Regions from separate parts of the Homo sapiens genome. Here region 1 is linked to region 2. A link means that fine-mapping ties the variant in region 2 to the expression of a gene that starts in the linked region. Tissue or cell type: whole blood. Region 2 holds a variant in brackets; the other region holds the start of a gene. All regions are shown on one strand. Distances are from middle to middle.

Region 1 (8,092 bases), 66 kb after region 2:
ACGTGCATCCTCAGTGCTAGAGGAGGACGGGGTTAGCAAGCCAAAGCCTGTGGGCTAGCCACCTGTTTTTGTACATACTGTTGCTTTGAAACACAGTCATGCCCATTCACATAGAGAATGCCCATGGCTGCTTTCACAATACAGTAGAGTCAAGCAGGTGAGACAGAAACTACGTGGTCCACAAGCACAAAATGTTAGTTATCCGGCCCTTAAGAAAAAGACTGCCCATCTCTGGTTTAGGATATGAAAGGGAGTATGGCAATACTCATCAATAATAGCAGCTAACCTTTATTGAGTGCTTACTACGCACTATGTACTGCAGAAAGCACTTTCCATGTGCTAACATTTAATTCTCTTAATCCCAAATGTTGTCACTATGAGCCAACTTTGCAGATGGAGAAAGCACTAACTGGTGAATCCAAAAAGGAACATGAGTCTGCCAGACTCCACAGCCCAAACTCTTAACCACTGTGTTATGAAAGATAAATTCAGCTCATGAAAGGTCTTATACAATGGGCGAATTACTTGAACACTGTCCTGAAAATATTAAGATTTGCATGGCCTAGCTGCTGGGTGAAGATTGCAAATAAGAGGCTTACAGAAATACATGGAAAAAAAACAATGGTAAATGAAAATCCTAGCAGCAATGGCTAGGATTAAAGGTAGATGGAGACATGATTTTAACAATGTGAAGCAACAGACTAAGTTTATTGATGTGATTTACTAAATGAGGGAAGATGAGGAAAGAGTTAAGAAAGTGCAAGTTTGGACAACTGTGTCAATGACAGTAGACCATTCATGGAGAAAGATAATATGGGAAGGAGAGTAATGTAAAGGTGGTATGTTCAATTTTGCATTTGTGGAGATTCACAATTATCAGTACCAATATTATACACTAAAAATGGCAAAGAAATATTTAATATTTTTATTCTTACCTCTAAAGTTTTCAACAACGTTTGTGTTACATAGGTCTTTCCACTAGCAGTATGTCCATAAATAAAAATGGATGGAAAGCTGAAATGATGTCTCTAACGAGAGAAAAGACAAATATGAGGCTGCACATACAAAATAGAAAATAAACACTTATCAACTTGTGAGAAAGTTGTACGTGGAAAAGTGAAATATTCAATCCAAATTCCTAACAATGAGCATATTGTGGATGCATCAACACACTTTGAACCTACTTGAATTCAACTCTAAGCACTTTCTTTGTTATGAAATTAAAATGTATGTAACATATTTGGCATATTTTATTATGTACTATATATTTATATTTTTATTATCGTACAGGTTTACATATACAAACTAGTATTTTCAACTTCATAGCAGATTTAAGAGATTTTTCAAGGATAATTTTGTTCATACTCCATTTTTATATTACTCCTTCTTAAAGACTCTTATCTCCTGCGATGCCACAACTTCACTATACATTTTAATGCTATGAAATAAAGTACATATAATCAAAAGATTAAAAGGAATTTCAAGGGTCCTCATTCTTAGGAAAACTTATAGACTACTTCTGAACTATGCATACTCACTGATGCTGGCATAAATGCATACATTAGATCACATAAAACACTAATAAAATCTGCATAGCATTTATTTTAAAATACATATGTGCAAGATCCTCTTGCAGTACATTAGGTTAGCAGCTTAGAGAAAAGTAAATATTGTCAAAGGTCTCTCTGGTCTAGTTAATACTACAAATACTTGTACTTCATTCCTTAAATGAACGCTTTCATTAGATACCTACTAAATGCTGAAAACCATGAGGTACTGAAGAGAACAAATAACAGTAAAAGACATTATCTACTTTGGAGGAAATTATAGTCTACATTTTTAAAATAATTACGGGAAAACTTGATTTTTTAATAATACTCTTTTTTTTTTTTTTTTTTTTTGAGATGGAGTCTCACCCTGTCACCCAGGCTGGAGTGCAATGGCGTGACCTCGGCTCACTTCAACCTCTGCCTCCCGGGTTTAAGCGATTCTCCTGCCTCAGCCTCCTGAGTAGCTGGGATTACAGGTGTGTGCCACCACACCCAGCTAATTTTTGTATTTTTAGTTAAGACGGAGTTTCACCATGTTGGTCAGGCTGGTCTCAAACTCCTGACCTTGTGATCTGCCTGCCTCAGCCTCCCAAAGTGCTGGGATTACAGGTGTGAGCCACTGTGCCTGGCCTATTTTTTAATAATACATTTTTTTAAATAATTACAAGAAAATGGGATTATGCAATTTCTATCAGAAAGTTAAGTCTCTATTAATTATCATCGATTACAGCAACAGTCACAAACATTTATTACATTCAAGTCACTAAGTTAAACATTTCCTTTTACAAGACAAATCAGGAACTCAGATTTACGCAGGAAAAAGACTTTCTAAATGGCATACAGCTATGGCAAAAGCAGCTCAACTGCTAAAAATAGACTAAAAATTTACTTGAAATGAATAGGTAATGTAATACATGAATCTTTTTCTGAAGTTTATATGTAACAATCATAAATTAACTGGCCCAAAAATTCTGTCTCAGCAGGATGCAGTGGCTCAAGCCTGTCATCCCAACACTTTGGGAGGCCAAGGCAGGCAGATCACTTGAGTTCAGGAGTTCGCCTGGGAAATACAGTGAAACCCCATCTCTACAAAAAACACAAAAATAGCCAGGCTTGGAGGCAAACACCTGTGGTCCCAGCTACTCGGAGGCTGAGGTGGGCGGACTGCTTGAGCCTGGGAGGCAGAGACTGCAGTGAGCCAAGATCATGCCACTGCACTCCAGCCTGGGAAAGAAAGCCAAACCCTGTCTCAAAAAACAAAAACAAAAAATTCTGTCTCAAGAATTAAATGCATGTTGCTGAGTATCTCTGCTATCCATTACATGTTGTTGCCTAATAATACCTTAAACATCTTTTCTATTGTGACCTAGAATTATATTGAACTGTTCCACTGTTATTTAACCTTTCACCTTCATAAATCTCGCTAACATAAACTGCAATAAGCTAGTACCTGACACAGAAAAGGTGCTCGGTAAATATTTATTTATTGAACAAATAAATGAGTATTCTTAGAAACATGAACCAATTTTTTATATTTCTTTGCTATAGTTGTTTGTATTTCCCACATGCACAGCACCTTGCAGAAAACTGATATTAAAATATTGTTAAACATAATTTTCATTAAAAGCAAAGGTCAAAAACTCTTCTGTGATCCACCACTAAGTTTACTCATCCCTATTTGCCAATTTGCTCTTTCAGCAGGAACATTTCTGGCTGGAGTGATCTGCGTTCCATAGATGAAATGCAGAGAACATAATCAAGAAAATGCTCCAGTAATAATATAACTATAATTGAAAGCAGTATAAATAGAAAATTAATTGAAGATGCAGTTGTTGACCTCTAACTTCCCTAAATAATGCACCCCTTTAGACAGAGGGTAGTACTTTTCCACTAATGCTTCACAGGCCACCTCAAATTGCCATGCAATATTTCTAGTTGGATGAAAGTACAGTCACGTGTACATTCAAAGATGGACCACATATACAACAGTGATCTCATAAGATTATAATACCCTATTTTCACTGTACCTTTTCTATGTTTAGACACTTTTAGATGCAGACTTATCACTGTGTTACAACTGCCTACAGTATTCAGTATAGTAGCACCGCTGTAGAGGTTTATAGCCTAGGAGGAACAGGCTACACCATACAGCCTAGGTGTATAGCAGGCTACACCATCTAGGTTTGTGTAAATACACTTTCTGATATTCACAGGGATTAAATTGCCTAACGATGCATTTCTCAGGACGTATCCCCCTCACTAAGTGGCAGCAACGCATGACTGTACTTAAAAAAGCAAACCAGAAGATGGGGGTATGAGTATGACCCTGAATTCTCATTCACTCTCTTCGCAGGTAAGATCCAAGTTTGATTAATTCCAATTCTGATTGAGTCTGAATCAAAAAGCACATCAAAGACCACCAGAAAATAGTCAAAAATAGGTTAAATTTTGAATTGGTGAACGCTACCCTCTGCCTATTGAAAGGACTCCCTACGTATCTATGTTCATCCAGACAAGACAAACTCCTCTCTAGGGCATCCTGTGAACTATCAGTTAAGGAGAAAAGTTTACCCTAGACCTCTTCTGGACTGTTACAATTCTGGAAAAGCCAGTAAATTTTTAAACCTGAAGCACTGCTTTGGCCCTTAGTGGCCTTGAAAGCAACCACCTCTCTACACTTGACTCACTCCAACTACCGCACAGAAACGTGTGAACTTACATTTGAATAAATAACACCCTGCAAACACATCTGTTACATAAATGTCATTGGGTTGGGGTAAGATAACAAGCAACTTCTAGGAGCTAATGTGGGCAAACTTCTGAAAAGTGTGGCGTGTTTCAAATACGTCTTAGGCAACGTCCTATAGTGCAGGCCGGTCGCTCTCAGACTGTCTCCTCTTCAATATTCGGAAGAGACTGTGGGTGAAGCTGCAGTACAGAACCACAACACCCCTATTTAACGTAAAAACGGCCTTTTGGCCCTCAATCCAAACACGAAAAAACAAATATTGGAACAGGTCGCAAGACTACCGAAACGTCTGCCTCCAGGATCTGGAAGACAGTTTAACTACAATACCTCTCCAAACAAGGACTGCAAGATGGACACTTGAGACTCGCGACAAAGCACCACGTTTTCCAAGTGGGGCATTCTGGCAGGCACCACCGCAGAGGCCAGTGCAGCCAGCCCACAGGACCCTTGCACAAGACGGAGCCTCTCCCGAGTCTGGCGGCCCACGCTCCCGCCGGAAACCGGACCCGCAGCGTCGTGGGAGGAGCCTGCGCTGCCGGGCTGCGGCGTGACGGCAGCGCGTACGCCGAGCGTCGCCGCCGCTCTAGTCTCAGGGCCGGAACCATCCTCTTCTCGCTGGTCCTGTGCGCGCCGAGGTTTTGCCCATTCTTGGGCTTGGTGGGGATTTCGGGCTGACGCTTTTTCCACTCAAAGGCTAAGGAGACGACATGGAGATGGGCGAATAGGGAAGGGGTGGAAGGGGTTAAGGGGGTCCCGTGGGCCTCCAATGACCCCTGAACCCCGTGCCTTTAGTTTTACCGGCTGGAAGCCCCAAGTTTAGAAACCTTGAGTGCCTAAGAAGACGGACCCGGAGCTGGGGCCCTTAGAGGGACGTGGAAGGCGGACTTAGAAGACTAATATTGTCAAAAGATGTTTTTGTTGTCGTTTTTTTCCCTGACGACGTTGTGGGAAATTAGTGGCATTGAGTACAAAACAGGGTGTAATGGGGTTTAATGCACAGCTTGGAATTACTATTTTTTGTGCAAGCTTTAAACCAGATGTGGAAAGCCTCTCAGTCCTAATGGGATGAAGTCGTAGTGTGTGTTGGTGAGGTTGATAGTAAAAATAATGCTACTTTTAGCATTAGGCTTTCACGTGTATTTATTTGTGAGGCACCTACTAGCGACTAAACACTAGAAGATTCTGGAAATAAGATACAGAAGTAGGCAAGTGCATGGTGGAAAGAGAGCTTGGCGTCCTGAAACCCCTGGGTTGGGACCACTGACTGACTCAACTGCTGAATAGGGGGACTTTGGAATAGTTGAGCCTCAACTTCCTTATCTATAAAATAGGGATAATACTGGCTAGGTTATTGCTAGGAGTAGAAGATCCTGTACATACTACCTGTTATACATAAATTTAAATTGTGGACTTCAATCTGCCCATAGATTGTAGATCAGTCTTAGATTTGTGATGGTCAAAAGGATCTTTTGAGAGTTGTGGTATATAACGTATTAGCTAGTCAAAATAGTATTTTCACAGCAACAATTCAAAAGCATTTGCCCAGGTACTTTTTAATAGAGAATTCTAAAGGTTATAATGGGACCACCCATTAAATTTCAATGTCTCCAAGGGAAGCTGGCCTCTGATACTCTCCTAAGATGGTTATACGTCCGTAACATACTGTGCATATAAGGTATACATATATTATAATCATAACACGACATCTTTATAGCATTCAATAAAACTGACTAAACTGTCTAAAATGTTAGTCTCCCTCTCTATATACTTTATGAGGACAGGAAACACTGTCTTCACAGTTCAATTTCCAGCATACACAGTTAACGCCTGGCAGTTACATAATAAAGATAATTGTTGATCTGAGAGAACATGCCTTACCATCTGGATGATTTAGGATGGTTTCTCAGAGGAGAGAACCTGGAAGCTGAGGCTGAAGAAAAGATTCACCTGTGAGACCAAGAAGGAAATTGTAAACAAAAGAATGTACAGACAAAAAGGGACAAATGGGCAATCCCATAACTGAAACTAGCAAATAGTTTTTACATATAAACCTGGAGAGTAGTAGGAGGTCAGGCTGGGGACCAATAAAGAATTGTAGGCAGAGAAGCAAATGTTGAGATTTGACTTAGAAATATTCCTTCTGGCTACAGTGTGGAAAGTGGAATCAATTTCATTTGTTGAAACGACTATTGCAGTCTCCCAAACAGTGAATAATAATGGCCTCGATAGGCAGCCAAGATGGCCGAATAGGAACAGCTCTGGTCTACAGTTCCCAGCATGAGTGATGCAGAAGACGGGTGATTTCTGCATTTCCATCTGCGGTACTGGGTTCATCTCACTACGGAGTGCCAGACAGTGGGCACAGGATAGTGGGTGCAGTGCACCGTGCACGAGCCAAAGCAGGGCGAGGCATTGCCTCACTCAGGAAATGCAAGGGATCAGGGAGTTCCCTTTCCTAGTCAAAGAAAGGGGTGACAGACAGCATCTGGAAAATCGGGTCACTCACACCCTAATACTGCGCTTTTCCGACGGGCTTAAAAAATGGCACACCAGGAGATTATATCCTGCACCTGGCTCCGACGGTCCTACGCCCACGGAGTCTCGCTGATTGCTAGCACAGCAGTCTGAGATCAAACTGCAAGGAGGCAGCGAGGCTGGGGGAGGGGCGCCCGCCATTGCCCAGGTTTGCTTAGGTAAACAAAGCAGCCAGGAAGCTAAAACTAGGTGGAGCCCACCACAGCTCAAGGAGGCCTGCCTGCCTCTGTAGGCTCCACCTCTGGGGGCAGGGCACAGACAAACAAAAAGACAGCAGTAACCTCTGCAGACTTAAATGTCCCTGTCTGACAGCTTTGAAGAGAGCAGTGGTTCTCCCAGCATGCAGCTAGAGATCTGAGAACGGGCAGACTGCCTCCTCAAGTAGGTCCCTGACCCCTGACCCCTGAGCAGCCTAACTGGGAGGCACCCCCCAGTAAGGGCAGAATGACACCTCACACAGCCGGGTACTCCTCTGAGACAAAACTTCCAGAGGAATGATCAGGCAGCAACATTTGCTGTTCACCAATATCCACTGTTCTGCAGCATCCACTGCTGATACCCACGCAAACAGGGTCTGGAGTGGTCCTCTAGCAAACTCCAACAGACCTGCAGCTGAGGGTCCTGTCTGTTAGAAGGAAAACTAACAAACAGAAGGGACATCCACACCAAAAACCCATCTGTACATCACCAGCATCAAAGACCAAAAGTAAATAAAACCACAAAGATGGGGAAAAAACAGAGCAGAAAAACTGGAAACTCTAAAAAGCAGAGTGCCTCTCCTCCTCCAAAGGAACGCAGTTCCTCACCAGCAATGGAACAAAGCTGGTCGGAGAATGACTTTGACGAGTTGAGAGAAGAAGGCTTCAGACGATCAAACTACTCCAAGCTACAGGAGGAAATTCAAACCAAAGGCAAAGAAGTTAAACACTTTGAAAAAAATTTAGACGAATGTATAACTAGAATAACCAATAGAGAGAAGTGCTTAAAGGAGCTGATGGAGCTGAAAGCCAAGGCTCGAGAACTACGTGAAGAATGCAGAAGCCTCAGGAGCCAATGTGATCAACTGGAAGAAAGGGTATCAGTGATGGAAGGTGAAATGAATGAAATGAAGTGAGAAGGGAACTTTAGAGAAAAAAGAATAAAAAGAAACGAACAAAGCTTCCAGGAAATATGGGACTGTGTGAAAAGACCAAATCTACGTCTGATTGGTGTACCTGAAAGTGACGGGGAGAATGGAACCAAGTTGGAAAACACTCTG
Region 2 (8,110 bases):
CAAAAAACGTCTGCAAAGAAAATGACTACTTTGCAATCTGTAAATACAAATTTGTACATATGTTTTCCAGTCTAACAACCAAGACTAGTTGTCAGAGTCCTAGTTTTGTTTTTTTTTTTTTTCTTAGAGATATGGTCTCGTTCTGTTACCCAGGCTAGAGTGGCATGGCTTGATCACAGTTCACTGGAGTTTCAAATTCTTGGGCTCAAGTGGTCCTCTCAACTCAGTCTTCCCAAGTGGCTGGGACTACAGGCACATTTTTTAAATGTGCCTACAAAAAAAAAAAAAACAATTTTTTATTGTTTTGTAGAGACAGGGTCTCACTGTGTTGTCCAGGCTGGTCCTGAACTCCTCGCTTTGTGATTCTCCTGCCTTGGCCTCCCAAAGGGTCGGTGATACAGGAGGGGGGCAGGGAAGTGCTGGGCAGAGAAGGCCATGGTCCCTGGCTAGTGCTCCACTCCAAGTCTGAGCCCACAGACCTAGGTAAGGGCTGGCATTTCAGTTTTTGTGCCTAAATATTACATTTTCCAAGACCACCCTGGCTACCATGCCCCCATCCTGTGCCTATAAAAACCCCGAGACCCTAGCAGGTAGAGATACAAGTGGCTGGACGTTAAGAGGAATACACTGGCAGAAGAACAAGCAAGCGGCTGGACATCGAGAGCAACATACCGGCAGACACCAGCAGATGCCAGCAGGCCACCTACGGTGGGACAACACAGAGTTTGGCCAAGAGCGGCTAGACTTCAGGGGAAAACCACCTTCCCACTCCATCCTCCTTCGGGCTCCCCAACCATCTGCTGAGAGCTACTTCCACTATTCAATAAAACCTTGCACTCATTTTCCAAGCCCACATTTGATCGGATTTTTCGGTACAGCAAGGCAAGAACTAAGGATACAGAAAGCCCTCTCTCCTTCCAATAAGGCAGAGGGTCTAATTGAGCTAACACAAGCCACCTATAGATGGCAAAACTAAAAGAGCACACTGTAACACGCCCACTGCGGCTTCAGGAGCTGTAAGCATTCATCCCTAGATGCGGCCGTGAGATTGGAGCCCCACAACCTGCCCGTCTGCATGCTCCCATTAGAGGTTTGAGCAGCGGGACACTGAAGAAGCAAGCCACTACCCCTGGAAGGGGGACAAGGGAACTTTTCCTGTTTCACTGGGATTACTGGTGTGAGTCACTGCACTCAGCCCAACCAAGATTCCTAGCTCAACAACTGATTCAAACAATCAGTCCCTAAGAATTCCACTAGAGACAGCTTTGTTTCATTACTCAGACACATGACCGCTAAACCTTTAAAAGCTGCAAATAAAGCACATTCCTCCTCTAAAAATTTTACAGAATATCTATCTAAATAACTCAGAATATAAAATCTATACTCCTTTGGGTATAAAACAATAATATGGATTTAGGTCTTTTTAAGAGTTAGGTAGCTGGTTAGATGAGAGATAAGAAATACATCCTTCAGACCTGGGCTTAGTCTTGGTTTAAAACTTTCTTTCCTTCTTTTCTTTCTTTTTTTTTTTCTGAGGCAGGGTCTCACTCCATTATCCATGCTGGATTGCAGTGGCGCAATCATGGCTCACTGCAGCCTCAACCTCCCCAGACTCAGGTGATCCTCCCACAGCAGCCTCCTGAGTAGCTGGTACTATAGGCACATGCCACCACACCCAGCTAATTTTTTGTATTTTTTGTAGACATGGGGTTTTGCCATGTTGTCCAGGCTGCTCTTGAGCTCCTGGGCTCAAGTGATGCACCTGCCTAGCCTCCCAAAGTGTTGGGATTAGAGGCGTGAGCCCCCGCACCCAACCATTGCTTTAAAACTTATTGCTGATCGTGTACTCAGGAAAACACCAGAAGGATTATTAGTAAAAGCAAAAGTGTATTTTGATAGGTCAAAATCAAAGTACAAAATCACTTAACATTCATATGGCCAACTAAAATATTAAGTTCTCTGAAATCTAAGAAAGGAAGCTGATCCAAGAGCTGAAATTCTTTGAGCGCCCATTGTCTTCTCCTAATTTCTTATTTTTGTCTCCCATAAGCCAGCAGGAAAAAGAGTCAGCAATGGCAGTAAGATAAAATTTGGAGACTTAGTTACCTGTAACTGCTCAGTGGCAATATGAATAAGAGTTTTAAGTTAAACTATCTGTAATACCTAATCATGTGTCTTAGGAATTAAAATGCTCACTTAATTTGAGACTAATACTTTACAAATGCTAAGTAAACATCCCATGAATAATAAAAACACTAACAGCAGTAGTAATTTGCTTGGTATTAAGTACTCTATACACATTATCTCATGTTATTCCTCATTACCTTCATGTCCACAAGGTGGACATTATTATACTTTTTTTTATAGATAAGCCTTAGAGATCTTAAGTAACTTTCTCCATATTCCAGATCTACTGGCTTAGCAAGAATTCAAGAAACCATGATCATCTTACTATATTACATTTCCCATTACCATTTTAAAGGGAAAATTATCATGCAGTATTTAGTCGATTACTTTACTAACAAATTAAAGGGTGAACAGATAATAAATATCTCATATAGAGTATCTTATGTAGAGAAAATCCTATATTCAGTAAATAAGAAATATTTCAACTAGAAAAGCAATTTATATTAATACATCAAAATACAAAGCTCTGCATTCAAAAGGCTAAGACTTTAATTTCTAATTCAGTATCAATAATTAGGTTACACCTTGAAATATCTTTTATAAATATTGTGCGTTGAAAAGAATATGTATTTTGCAAATGTTATGTTCTTTGTTACATGTCTATTGCTTTGTTACATATATGTCTATTACACAAGACACATATGTAACAAAGACATTATTTGTATTGTTAAATCTTATATACACCATTTTTAAAATCTGCCTGATCAAAACTGAGAGAGGTATTAAAATTCTTTTGTTATCATAGAATCTTTCTGCTTTGTAGTTTTTAAGCTATGTTACTAGGTAACATACATACAGATTTAAAATTACGTTTTGTTGACAAACCTTTTCATTATAATAACCCTTTTATTCTCCAGTAATGTCTTAGCTTACAGTGTATTTTTTTCTAATCTTAATATAGCTATATTAGCATTCCTTTATGTGCTCTGCCTTTTTCTGTTACTTTTCATGATTCTACTTTCAAGGTTGATGTTTTCTCAATTTAAAACAGTTCTCATGTAAATAACATATAGTGGGATTTTGTTTTTATAATCAGTCTGACAACTTTTACCTTTCATTAGGACCATAGACTCCATTTGTTTTTAATATATCTAATGATTTTCTAAAATTTTTCTTTCTACTGTTATATTGACCTATTTGTCCCTCCTTTCCTTTTTCTCATTCCTTTCTTACCTTTTGTTGTAATTATATTTTCTTATCTCTTTTTACTTTCACTACCTTGTAAGTAGTTCTATAGTCCTTTTAATTCGAATGTCCATTTTGATTTCTTTTTCGGCTCTCTTGCTATTTTGGAAGTCCTCCTTTATTTCCAACTTACAGAGTTTTTCCAGTTTTTTGTTTTGTTTCTGGGGGATCACAGAATGTGATCTGCATACTAGCAATCCTCTGAAATTTGTTGAGGCAGCTAGGTTCTCTGGGAGGAAAGAAGGGTGCATGGGAACCTGGGTGTCACTGTGACAGAGTGAAAATGACCATGGTGGCCACCCTGCCTGTTCTGCCCACCAGGCCCCTTCTTGCTTTATTCCAAGAATGTCTCCAGCTGATGACAACAGAGCACAAAGCATGCCCACCATGTGGGATGACTTACCCCAGGCAAATGAGGTAGGGTGCAACAAGAGTTTTTTTCTCTTACTTATTAAGGTATCTACATAATATCCTACATTTTGCCTTTTAGCCTGCAAAGTCTAAAATATTTACTATGTATCCCTTTACTGAAAAGGTTTGCTGACCTCTGCATTAGAAGATTGCTAGATTC[A/G]AATTGTTAATTTAACCAACATTAAAACTAAGATGTTTAGTAACTTGATCAAAGTGGTAATGCCCAGATGGTGCCAGAAACTCACCTGACTAGGAATTAAATCTCCTAACTCCAACTCCAAAACTTTTAAAAAACATGCATAAGCTGTGATCACAGCTAAGAAAGTGCAGATCTAACAGATGTATTATACTCCGGCCTGAAAAGAGTGTGTGCTAAAAGAATTAGGATGATCTGCAAAATAGTCATAAAGGGAGCATTCAACAGAATAAACCCAGCAGTATGCCTCTAGCACTAAGATACAGGACTCTTTGCCCATTAACTTAGAAATCTGGTATATGCTACAAATTTGTATTCACCGTAGAGGTGGAGCTGCCTGGCTGTCACTTAAGGTATTAAGATCATCCAATTACCTCATTCCCACTCTCACCACTGGGCCCATTCAGATTCCACACTTAATCTTCTGATTTCAGAAGAGAGAGAACATAGTTTAAGAGAAAAAAACATTTAAAGTTAGTAAGATCTATCTTTTGCCACTTGCTAGCAGTAGACTTCAGACTGGTCAGTTCAACAATGTGGACCTCAATTTTCAAAACCAAAAATCATCATAATAATCTTTCAGCCACACAGGGATGTTCTAAATATTTATAACTATAAATGAGCACCAAAAAGCTGTTAGAACTAATAAATGCTTTCAGTAAAGTTGCAGAATACAAAAATCAACAAACATGTCTATACACTTACAATGAACTATCAAAAAACGAAATTTAAAAAAATCTAACTTACAACAGCATCAAAAAGAATAAAACATGTAAGAATAAATTTAATCAAGAAGGTGAATTATTTATACACTAACAACTATAAAACACTGATGAAAGAAATTCAAGACGACACAAATAAGTGAAAAGATACCTGTGTTCAAGGACTGGAAGAATTATGATTTTTAAAATGTCCATACTACCCAATGCAATCTACAGATTCAATGCAATCCCCATCAAAATTCCAATGGCATTTTTCACAGCTAGAGGTATCACAATTCCTTATTTCAAAGTATATTATTAATACAAAACTACAGTAATCAAAACAGTATGGTAATGGCATAAAAACAGACACACAGATCCACAGAACAGAAAGTCCAGAAATAAAACCACACATATAAGGTCAACTAATCTTTGACAAGGGTACCAAAAATACACAATGGGAAAAGGATAGTCTCTTCAATAAATGGTACTGGAAATATTGGATATCCACATGCACAAAAAATAAAACTGAACTCTCATCTTACACCATACACAAAAATTAATTCAAATGGACTAACGACTTAAATGTAAGACATGAAACAATAAAATTCCTAAAAGTAAACGTAGGGAAAAAAACTCCCTGATATTAGTTTTGGCAATGATTTTTTTGGATAGGCTGCCAAAAGCACAGGAAACAAAAGCAAAAATAAACAAATGAGACTACATCAAACTCAACAGCTTCTTCACAGCAAAGGAAACAACCAATAAAATGACAAGGCAATCTACAGAATGGGAGAAAAAAAATCAGGTAAATCAAATGGCATAAACAAGATAATAGAAACAAAATTATATTAACAATTGTATTAAAAGTAAATGAAATGCTTCAAATAAAATAAAAAGACTGAAAAAATCAAACTGCATTTTGTTTAAAAGAGATACATATAAAATGGAAGCACATGTGAAAGTTAAAGGTCAAAGACAAAATTGAGATATGTCACACAAATTCTAATAAAACGAACAATGATGAAAATATGTTAAACATCAGACAAAACAGACATGAAATGAGGTTTAAAGAAAGGTTCACTTAATAATGATAAAATGCAGGCCCTGAGCTCGTATCTCTTAAAAGATTAATTGTTTGACACCTTTACTATGAAAAGAAGAGACACAGAAAGGATGGACAGCCAAGGGATCCAGGAGTCTTCGTGGGAGAGTAAGTACTGCTAAAACCCAAGACAAGACAAATTCAATAGCCTTCCCAGTGTGGAAACAGGTAGAAATCTATAATGACAGTAGGCCTGAAATTTTAATGAATGGGAAGATATGTAGTGAAGAGTGAACATAGTCTTTTATTGCTAAGTATATTAACTTCAACCCTTTCTATTTTTCTGTAAGGGATTCGTTTGCTAAAATAGGTTAGTAATAGCTATTTGAAAAATCATGCATTGAACTCTATTATTAAAGGCAGTTCCCCTTAGTACTTTTTTTTTAATACAGAAGAAAACATTAATTACCCTGTACTTTGCCACTGACATTTCCTTATAATATTTCTCATAACTGATACTTTCCTGTTAATTCGAACACTCACATATTTAGATTCTTTAATCGAAATTGTATGCTAAATTACTTTTTCCACAATTTTTTCATAGAAAAACACAAAATCTGTCTTTAATATAGTTAAGTTAGGGTCTCAAGAATATTTTCAGATGCCTTACAGTTTTTTACTTTTAGCACATTAGTTGTAACAAATGTCCAAAGGCAGAAAGTTGGAACAAACAAGCCCTTGAAGTCACTTTCAGTTCTACCAAGATTCCCCGGCTAAATTAATCATGTAAATTGTGCAAAGAATATAATATCACTTCAGCTGAAGATGCAGCAGCTAAAAGGAACTTCCAAAATATTAATAAGATGATTGATCAATTTTTTTAGGGGTAGGGATGATTTAGGAAAAGCTAATACATTAAAAGAACTAAACCTAAAAAAAGCAATTAAATTAGAATGTGATTTTTCACATTAAAAAAACTCATTTCAGTCATTTGTTGACTTTATCATGTGAAAATCACTGAAAAACTCAACATAAAAATATTCATATATATAAATTGTACACAAATATACAAATAATAGATATTCAGAAGAATATCTATTACATAAAGCAGTGAACAGGCCGGGTGCGGTGGCTCACACCTGTAATCCCAGCACTTTGGGAGGCAGAGACAGGTAGATCACTTGAGGCCAGGAGTTTCAGATCAGCCTGGCCAACATGGTGAAACCCCGTCTCTGCTAAAAATACAAAAGTTAGCTGGGCATGGTGGCACGTGCCTGTAATCCCAGCTACTTGGGAGGTTGAGGCATGAGAATTGCTTGAACCCAGGGGGTGGAGGTTGCAGTGAGCTGAGATCGCACCACTGCACTCCAGCCTGGGTGACAGAGCAAGACTCTGTCTCAAAAATAAAAATAAAAATAAAAAAAGGAGTGAACAAATGTACCAAATATTTAAAGGTACTTTCCCAGTTTATTAAAATTTTGCTAGAGTAAAATTGAAAACAAAATCAAGCACAAAGATTAATTAGTGGAGTCAACATTTTGAATCTCAAACGTATTAGTTTATTAACTTACTAAATGAAAACTACTGGAAAAATACATATAAAACTTTAAAAATTATTTCTATATATGCATAAATAGCAGAATATCCACCTTCCTTTCTATTATCCAATCCTTAAATTGGCTAATTTTTATTTCCAACTATATATCCATGAAACTCTTGAGGACTTACTCTAGGTACTGTGCATTTAAAAATGAGGCTGGGAGCAGTGGCTCACACCTGTAATCCCAGCACATTGGGAGGCCGAGGCAGGCAGATTACCTGAGGTCAGGAGTTCGAGACAGGCCTGGCCAACAGGGCAAAAACCCGTCTTTACTAAAAATACAAAAAATTAGCCGGTCGTGATGGCATGTGCCTGTAATCCCAGCTATTCTGGAGGCTGAGGCAGGAGAATCGCTTTAACTTGGGAGGCGGAGATTGCAGTGAGCTGAGATCGTGCCACTGTACTCCACCCTGGGCAACAGAACGAGACACCGTCTCACAAATAAATAAATAATGAACAGGATCATAAAAAATACTTATTTACTTCCTTGCTCCACTTTAAATGTTCATGACAATATGAACTCAGATCTCCAGGCTAGTATTAATACCTATGTAGTCTGATATGGTCAGTGTGGATCTGACAAAAAGTCTCTAGACAATGAGTACTCAGATTCATCGTGGTGTCTCAGTTTCACATGCATGCATGTATATGCATAAATAAGGGAGAGGTGGGGCCGAGCCTTTCCCATCTAACTGCCTGAGACCTTTACTATACAGGAAAAAGACACAGAACAGGATGGGCAACCAAGGGATACAGGGGTCTTTGGGGGACAGTAAATATTGCTG

The links. PIP is the estimated chance that this variant, and not a neighbour inherited with it, causes the effect.
Region 1: ORC5 starts here. The variant in region 2 is fine-mapped to the expression of ORC5 in whole blood (TOPMed, PIP above 0.99).

What each region holds. Positions count from the first base shown.
Region 1 is chr7:104,203,207-104,211,298 of GRCh38, forward strand. ORC5 (origin recognition complex subunit 5) reads right to left here and starts at 4,807. Exons shown (of 14, transcript NM_002553.4): 1 at 4,627-4,807; 2 at 936-1,028. The coding sequence starts at 4,698. RefSeq lists enhancers at 4,466-4,655, 4,696-4,775, 4,826-4,985.
Region 2 is chr7:104,136,995-104,145,104 of GRCh38, forward strand. The region is part of intron 12 of ORC5 (origin recognition complex subunit 5); the gene reads right to left. Among named protein-coding and RNA genes, the nearest start is that of ORC5, 67 kb to the right of the region's middle. The variant A/G (reference allele first, on the strand shown) is at 3,944.